Linked DNA regions of Homo sapiens: regions 1 and 3 are each linked to region 2. Evidence: fine-mapped expression QTL. A gene starts in region 2. Each other region holds a variant in brackets. All regions are shown on one strand. Distances are between the middles of the regions.

Region 1 (2,760 bases), 27 kb before region 2:
CAAAAGCAAGATGTCGGCAGAGTTGATTTCTTCTGAGGCCTCTTACCTTAACTCAAAGATGGCCACATTCTCCCTGTGTCTTCACAAGGTCTTCCCTCTGCTCTGGTGTCTCTGTGTGTCCAAATTTCCTCTTCTGATAAGAACATTAATCAGATTGGATCAGAGCCCACCCTAATTGGCCTCATGTTAAGTTAAATCAGCTCTTTAAAGGCCCTCTCTCCAAATACAGTCACATTCTGAGGTACTGGGGAGCCAGGGCTTCAACATATGAATTTGCAGGGGTCGGGAGACACAATTTGGCCCAAAATAGGCATGTTCCCCAGCCTGGGGGACAGGGAAGCAGAGGGAACAGCAGAGGTACAGGATAGTGTGGGGCAGGAGGGAGGGGCACATGCTGTGGTGTCAGTGGAGGGTATGGTGTGAGGTAGGGAGTATCAGGCTGGAAATGTTGGCAGGGGCTGGATCTGAAGGGCCTTGAATCCTGCACCAATGAATGTAGACTAGCTTGCAGAGGGGTGAATCTCAAGTGTCAGTGCACCGCAAGATTGCCTGGGACATTGTGACAAGTGCAGGGATCCTTGGAGGGGACATCCTAGAAAGCTGCACTTTAATCAGTATCTCAGATGGACCAAGACCCACCCTCAGCAAAGAAGATGCAGGTGCCATTGACGAGATGTAAACAGGGGCTTGACACTGGCTCAGTTGGAGAGGATAGATTGGAGGGGCAAGAATGGAGACAGAGAGGCCATCAAGGGGGCTGTCCTGAGTGCCCAGCCAAGAAATGATGAAGTCTGAATTGATACTAATAGTGGTTGACTTTTAGAGAGTGTTTAACATATGCCATGAGCCAGGCCTGAGCTAAGCACCCTTCCTGGGTAATCTTACTGATTTCTCACAACAGTCTTGTATGGTAGGTATCTTTATTATTATTACTACTATTATTTTGAGACAAGGTCTCACTCTGTCACCCAGGCTGGAGTGCTGTGGCACAAACATGGTTCATGCAGCCTCGATCTCCCAGGCTCAAGCAATCCTCCCACCTCAGTCCCCCAAGTAGCTGGCACTATAGGCACATGCCACCATGCCTGGCTAAATTTTGTGCTTTTTTGTAGAGACAGTTTTGCCATGTTGCTCAGGCTGGTCTCAAACTCCTGGGCTCAAGTGATCCTCCTGCCTTAGCCTCCCAAAATACTGGGATTACAGGCATGAGCCACCACACCCGGCCAGTGTCTTTATTTATTTATTTATTTATTATTATTTTTTAAGATGGAGTCTTTCTCTGTCACCAGGCTGGAGTGCAGTGGCGTGATCTCGGCTCACTGCAACCTCCGCCTCCCGGGTTCAAGCGATTCTCCTGCCTTAGCCTCCCAAGTACATGCGCATGCCACCACCCCCAGCTAATTTTTGTATTTTTAGTAGAGATGGGGTTTCACCATGATGGTCTTGATCTCTTGACCTTGTGATCTGCCCACCTTGGCCTCCCAAAGTGTTGGGATTACAGGCATGAGCCACCGCGCCTGGC[CTATTTATT/C]TATTTATTTATTTATTTATTTATTTATTTATTTTTGAAATGGAGTCTCATTCTGTCACCCAGGCTGGAGTGCAATGGTGTGATCTCAGCTCACTGCAACCTCTGCCTCCCAGGTTCAAGCAATTCTCCTGCCTCAGCCTCCTGAGTAGCTGGGATTACAGGTGCCCGCCACCACGCCCAGCTAATTTTTTGTATTTTTAGTAGAGATGGGGTTTCACCATATTGGCCAGGCTGGTCTCAAACTCCTGATCTCGTGATCCACCCGCCTCAGCCTCCCAAAGTGCTGGGATTACAGGCGTGAGCCACCACTCCCAGCCTCTTTATTTTTATTTCATAGTTGAGAAAACCAAGGCTCAGAAAGGTGAAAAGACTTGCCCAAGGTCACAACTAGGGAGAGTTGTCTGTCTGTGTGTCAGGAGAGGCAGAACCTAGATCTCAGCCCTGCCTCTCTGGACAGTTGCAGAGGGGATCGCAAGGTTGATGGGAGCTGTGGGGACATAGTAGGCAGGACTTTGTGACAGGTTGAATGTGGGCAATGGCAGGGGTGGGGTATGAACTACTTGCAGGCAGTTCTGGGTCCCTAACTCTCCATGTCACCAATCAAAGGTCAAAGGGAGCCCAGCCTGGGTGTGGGGCAGAAGCAGAGATGTTGGCGGCGTGAAGCTCAGGAGTATACATCAGAGAAAGCCAAAAGCCAGCTGGAATAGTTCCTGAATACAGTTTTAACCTTGCTTGCAATTATTTTGAAGGGGAGAAATCATCTGGATTGGAATTAAGATGCTCTGGTTTCAAGGAAATAGCATGCAGCTTGCCAGATCCTCCCTTGGACTCTTCTTGATAAACTGCTCTGTCTCTAAGACAACTCTGCCCGTGCTGACCTTATTCACAAAGGACCCACGCCCCCTTTGTGGTGAAGCCAAGGAAGTACTCAAGCCTTATAGTAACAGGTTTATTTTACAGGAAGTGAACGTCACACTTCCAGAAAACTCTGCCTGGTATGAAAGGTATAAATTTGACATTCCTGTCTTTCACTTGTGTGGCCAGTTTCTGATGATGCATCAAGAAAACACCTCAAAACTTGACAAACAGCTCCTGAAACTTGAGCAGCAAAGTACCGGAGGCTGACGAATGCCCTCATGATTTTCCACCCTCTCTTCCTATACGGCATCTTCCTAAGGAAATGACCATGGCCTGATACTCCTTTTGTCACCTATACAGAGCCCTAAGGAT
Region 2 (2,760 bases):
CCCTGCTGGCAGTGGGCAGCACTACCTCCCTTACCTGTGCACATTTCAACTTCACCTGTCAGCCAACTTTATACCCATTTTAAAGACAATGAAAACGGAGGCACAGGAAAGAAGAGGGGTGACTTTCCTAAGGACACCGACCAACTTGTTGAACTCCCCCATATAACAAGTAATCATCAAAGCTAACAGCTTGTAACACTGTTGTGTCAAGCAGGGCCTTGGGCACCTTTGTGGATGAGAAACTGGTGTCTATGGTAAGCAGAGGCTGTCTGGCCTAGACACGGGCGTAGCAAGGAGACCGTGCGGGATTTCAGTACCCAAACGCCCCTCACCCTGCGCAACTATAGGGAGCGGCACTGCAGTCAACACATCACAACTTACAATATCCCTTGGATTGGATTCAATTATTAGCCTGGTTTTCCGGTTCATAAAGCCAAGACTCCCAGACAACCTCACTCCACCCCCCAGTCTGACCCTGGGCCCTCACCACTACTCCCCATTTGGCCTAGGCCCTTCCGCATGCCCCACCCAGACCGTGGTCCCGTGAGTCCGTCCAGACCTGTAAAAGTGGACCGCGGGCCCGCCTCTGCTCTGGACTCCCTTTCGGGGCCGCAGGAGGCTTTCTCATCCATCAGGCATCTGGCAAGCACCAGGAAACTACCAGCCTGTTTGTGCTAAGGAAACTGAGGCTCGGGAATGTTTAGCGGCTCCTTCCAGGCCCGTGGCGGGTGGGTGGTGGTACAGTGAAGCAGTCGAGGCGTTTCTCCGCGCCCCTACACGGGTGGGACCACCTCAGCCCTGGCCCGATCCCACTCAACCGTAGCCCCGATTCCCGGCACCGAGAGCTTTGCAACTTCCAAGTCTCCACCCCCAGGTCCCGAGTCCCGAGAGGAAGGTGGAGCCACATTACTCCTATTGTGTAGGTTCCCACCTGCAAGAGTGCTGTCGGGTCCTCTGAGGTGAAACCCCAAAGGAAAGCGGGATCGGGACTGGGGGAGGGGGATTCCCAAGTCCCTGACACCCGCGCCGTCTCGGCCTGGGCTTGGTGACCTCGTCAGTCCCGTCTGCCGGGACTAGGCCGCGGCCAGGCCGGGCACAGCGGTACCCGGTCCGGCGCGTGTGCGGCCTGCTGACAAAAGGCCGAGCCCGCAGGGCCAATCCGCGCGCCACCCCGTAGCGCCTGGGGGCGGGAGCGGGCGAGCCGAGAAGCTCGTCTTGGCGCGTCTATTGGCTGGTACTGACGCCCATCCGGACCCCGAGGCCAGGCAGTTGGCCAAGGGGGGCGGGGTTCGCAGAGCCCCAATGAATGGGGGAGCCGGAAGCAGGAAGTGAGTTTGCGAACGGAGCAGCTGCTGCAGGTGAGGCGCGGCGCCTGGGCTTTTGGGGTCAAAGCGTGTCATCCCGGGGGACCAAGGCGAATCCATACTGAGCGCAAAATCGTTCCCTTTCTGCCCACTCTCCAGTACCCCCTCCAAATTCACCCCGCCCTCGAGGCCAAGGAGTGCTCCGGGGAGCAAAGAGTTAACAGCCCTTTCCGAACCTCGAGGCTGTGCTATTGGGGCGGGGCTTCTGGAGGCCGGGGCAGGGCGAGGAGGCTGGACACTCTGTCCCAGCCGGGACGGGGCGTGGCGGGGAGAATGCCCCGGGTTGGGGAATCCCCGGGTTCCAACGGGGCTGTCAGACCTTCAGTAAATTGTTGCCCTTTCCAAGCCTCAGTTTCCCTATCTGTAAAATGGGCTTTCTTCTGGTTGTGAACTTCTGTGGCTTCCCTGGTGGAGCACAGGGAGCGAGCAGGAGAATGGAGGGCCAAGGAAAAGGCATTTAGAGGGATGAGAATGGGACAGTTTCAAGCAAAATCATTTATTGCTGTGGATACTTTCCGTCCAGGGCGACTTCATCTGATTAGCGCACCCACCTGGTAATATTGGGGTTATTCTCTCTTTTATAGAGGAGGAAACGGAGGTACAGAAAAGTGAAGCAATGGACTTGACTTTTAGGAGTCTGGGGCCGAGTCCTGGCTAAAGGCTGAGCCTTCCAGCTGGCGGCCTGGCACTTTATCCTTGTGAGCACAGTGGAAAGTGTAAAGAATTCTGAACAAAGGCCAGGCGCGGTGGCTCACGCCTGTAATCCCAGCACTTTGGGAGGCCAAGGCAAGCAGATCGCTTGAGGCCAGGAGTTCGAGACCAGCCTGGACAAAATAGCGAGACCCCGTCTCTATCAAAAATACAAAAAATTAGCTGGGCATGGTGATGCACGCCTGTAGTCCCAACTACTTTGGAGGCTGAGGCAGGAGAATCGCTTGAACCCGGGAGGCGGAGGTTGCAGTGAGTCAAGATCATGCCACTGCACTCCAGCCTGGGCAACTAAGTGAGACTCCGTCTTAAAAAAATAATACTGAACAAGGAAGCAGGGAGGGGCCTGGGCTGGGAGCCTAGAGATGAGGATCTCTGCTGCTGATGTCTCCATTGTGGGATTAGGCAAGGCTCTTAGCCTCTCTGAACCTCAGTTTCCCCATCTGTAATACTAGGTAGTTAGAGTCAATCAATTTTTTTTTTTTTGAGGTGGAGTCTCACTCTGTTGCCCAGGCTGGAGTGCAATGGTGCGGTCTCAGCTCACTGCAGCCTCCACCTCCTGGGTTCAAGTGATTCTCCTGCCTCAGCCTTCCCAGTAGCTGAGATTACAGGTGCCTGGCACCAAGCCTGGCTAATTTTTGTATTTTTAGTAGAAAGGAGGTTTCACCATGTTGGTCAGGCTGGTCTT
Region 3 (2,760 bases), 280 kb after region 2:
ACTTCGGCTTTTGCTCTGTGACCCTAATTTTGTTTAGGTTCTACTTGGTGTGAGCACATTAATGTTTTTTGTTTTATTTTGAGCACATTTAAAAACTAATTGTGGAGGAAAAGTAATAAAAAATGAGATTTTAAACATTATTATTATTATTATTATTAGAGATGAGGTCTCACTATGTTGCCCAGGCTGGTCCTGAACTCCTGGGCTCAAGCAGTCCTCCCACCTCGGCCTCCCAAAATGCTGGGATTACAGGCATGAGTCACTGCACCTGTCCTATTATTATTTTTGAGACAGGGCCTTGCTCTGTCACCCAGACTGGGGTGCAATGGTGTGATCATGGCTCACTGCAGCCCCAAGCTCCTGGACTTGAGCCATCCTCCAGCCTCAGCCTCTTGAGTAGCTAGGGTCACATGTGCACACCTCCATGCCCAGTTACTTTTTAAATTTTTTCTAAAGATGGGATCTCACTTTGTTGCCCTGGCTGGTCTCAAACTTCTGGTTGGTCTCAAGCTCTCATGCAACAGCCTCCCAAAACGTAGGGATTACAAGTGTGAGCCACCCTGCCCAGCCAAGATTTTTATTTTAGCTCCAGAACATTCTGTGAGCATTTGGTAAGAATGTTCTCCCTTTAGTATTAATCACAATGATAATTTATTGAGCATTTACTATGCATTAGGCCTTGTGCTCCACTTAAAGGTAGTTATAGTAGTGAACAAGACAGATTTGGTTTCTCCCTTTATACCCCTAGTGAAGATACCTTAATTATTCTATTGCCTCTTTAAGCCTATGCCTAGAAAAAAGGGAATATCAGCTATTGTCCTGAAGAGTTTGCTCTGATTCTGAGACTTTTGGGAGATCTGAATCCAAGTTCAAGAATCATGGGCTGACTGCTTCAAAAACATCTAATTATTTATAAGTTTTTCCTTGTTCATTTTTGAATTATTGTCTTTGGGTTGATGCAGAGAAGGGAAAGATCATTCCTAGTGGCCCTGCTCCTGTTAATGTCTGTGAAATTGCTTTGAAAGAAGTGAAAATCGGCCGGGCGCGGTGGCTCACACCTGTAATCCCAGCACTTTGGGAGGCCTAGGCGGGCGGATCACAAGGTCAGGAGTTTAAACCAGCCTGGTCAACATAGTGAAACCCTGTCTCTACTAAAAATACAAAAAAAAAAAAAAAAAAATTAGCTGGGGGTGGTAGTGGGCACCTGTAACCCCAGCTACTTGGGAGGCTGAGGCAGGAGAATCGCTTGAACCTGGGAGGCGGAGGTTGCAGTAAGCTGAGATCATGCCACTGCACTCCAGCTCGGG[C/T]GACAATGCGAGACTCCATCTCCAAAAAAAAAAAAAATAAAGAAGTGAAAATCTGGCCAAGCATGGTGGCTCTGACTAAAATCCCAGCACTGTGGGAGACTGAGGTAGGCAGATTGCTCGAGCCTTGGGCAGCATGATGAAACCCCATCTCTACAAAAAATACAAAAATCAGCCAGGCATGTGAAAATCAGCTAGGTGTGCCTGGGGTCCCAGCTACTAGGGGGCTGAGGCAGGAGATCCATTTGAGCCCAGGAGGTCAAGTCTGCAGTGAGCTGTGATTGCGCCACTGCACTACAGCCTTGGTGACAGAGTGAGATCTTGTCTCCAAAAAAAAAAAGCTATATAAATGGAGTATATTATTAGCACTAGGGAGGAGATAGGAGCATTCCTTGCAAAATAAACCCACACTTAATGTGCTTGTACAAGGAGTGGTCAGATCATATATAAGGCTACTTGTTTGACTAATATTTGTGAAAGTGCTTTGAAAAAAGTGAAAAGCCGTGTAACTACAAGAGAATAGTTTTATTATCATTGTTACTCTTAGGGAGTATCATTTATGGGTTATCATTTATGGAATAACCACATACTCATGCCAATACAAACTCTAGACAATTTTTGTCATGGTGACTTAGTTTTAATTTAACTGTTACTTTAAAAACTCAAAGCAATTTCATTTAATCCTTATTGTGATAAAGTGTGAGTGGCTAACTCTTCGTACAAAGAGGAAGTACTGCACATCAAGTACATAATTAAAATTGAATCATTTGCTCATGCTCAATCACATTTAGTAGCCAACTGTAGCCTAAGTCTTCTCTCCAGTTGTTAGGGCTCTTAATATTAACCTCCACTCAATAATGCTAGTTATTCTTTTTGTTTGTTTGTTTGTTTTTGAGATGGAGTCTCACTCTTGTCACCCAGGCTGGAGTGCAGTGGCGTGATCTTGGCTCACTGCAACCTCTGCCTCCTAGGTTCAAGAAATTCTCCTGCCTCAGCCTCCCAAGTAGCTGGGATTACAAGCGCCTGCCACCACGGCCAGCTAATTTTTATATTTTTAGTAGAGATGGGATTTCACCATGTTGGCCAGGCCTGTCTCGAACTCCTAACCTCAGGTGATCCACCCGCCTCGGCCTCCCAAAGTGCTGGGATTACAGGCGTAAGCCACTGTGCCTGGCCTAGTTATTCTTACTAATTAGTAACAAAAATTACTCAGTGAACCTCACAAAGGAAATTGGTGAAGAATAAGACAGGAATCCCTTAGCTCCCTGGTTTATGCACCATTAATTATGCCTTTTTTACTATTATTATTTAGAATTTCTGACACTATTAAGCTAATAGCAAACTGCTTTAAATTGGTCCATTTACTGATCTTTACACTGTTTAGTTAGCTTCATCAGGGAGTCTCTGGCAGCTGGATTCATTACTCATCAGTTTTCTAGATGCTAAAAAATTGTGT

Which allele goes with the higher level. Positions count from the first base shown, and alleles are read on the strand shown. Sizes are in standard deviations (SD) of each study's normalised expression. Not every link is listed here.
For the expression in activated CD8 T cells of the gene that starts at base 1,327 in region 2, CTATTTATT is the high allele of the variant in region 1 and C is the other (moderate effect, 0.66 SD a copy in Schmiedel 2018).

The links.
Region 1: its variant is fine-mapped to the expression of DPP3 in activated CD8 T cells (Schmiedel 2018, PIP 0.95).
Region 3: its variant is fine-mapped to the expression of DPP3 in whole blood (TOPMed, PIP above 0.99).

What each region holds. Positions count from the first base shown.
Region 1 is chr11:66,451,927-66,454,686 of GRCh38, forward strand. It overlaps the pseudogene LOC100505524. Among named protein-coding and RNA genes, the nearest start is that of PELI3, 14 kb to the right of the region's middle. RefSeq lists a silencer at 507-700. The variant CTATTTATT/C (reference allele first, on the strand shown) is at 1,523.
Region 2 is chr11:66,479,108-66,481,867 of GRCh38, forward strand. It overlaps DPP3 (dipeptidyl peptidase 3), which reads left to right and starts at 1,327. Exons shown (of 18, transcript NM_130443.4): 1 at 1,327-1,358. DPP3-DT (DPP3 divergent transcript) reads right to left here and starts at 1,142. Exons shown (of 4, transcript NR_120586.1): 1 at 932-1,142. RefSeq lists enhancers at 153-720, 1,297-1,466 and a silencer at 1,107-1,156.
Region 3 is chr11:66,763,336-66,766,095 of GRCh38, forward strand. All of the region lies in intron 2 of TOP6BL (TOP6B like initiator of meiotic double strand breaks), which reads left to right. Among named protein-coding and RNA genes, the nearest start is that of TOP6BL, 20 kb to the left of the region's middle. The variant C/T (reference allele first, on the strand shown) is at 1,308.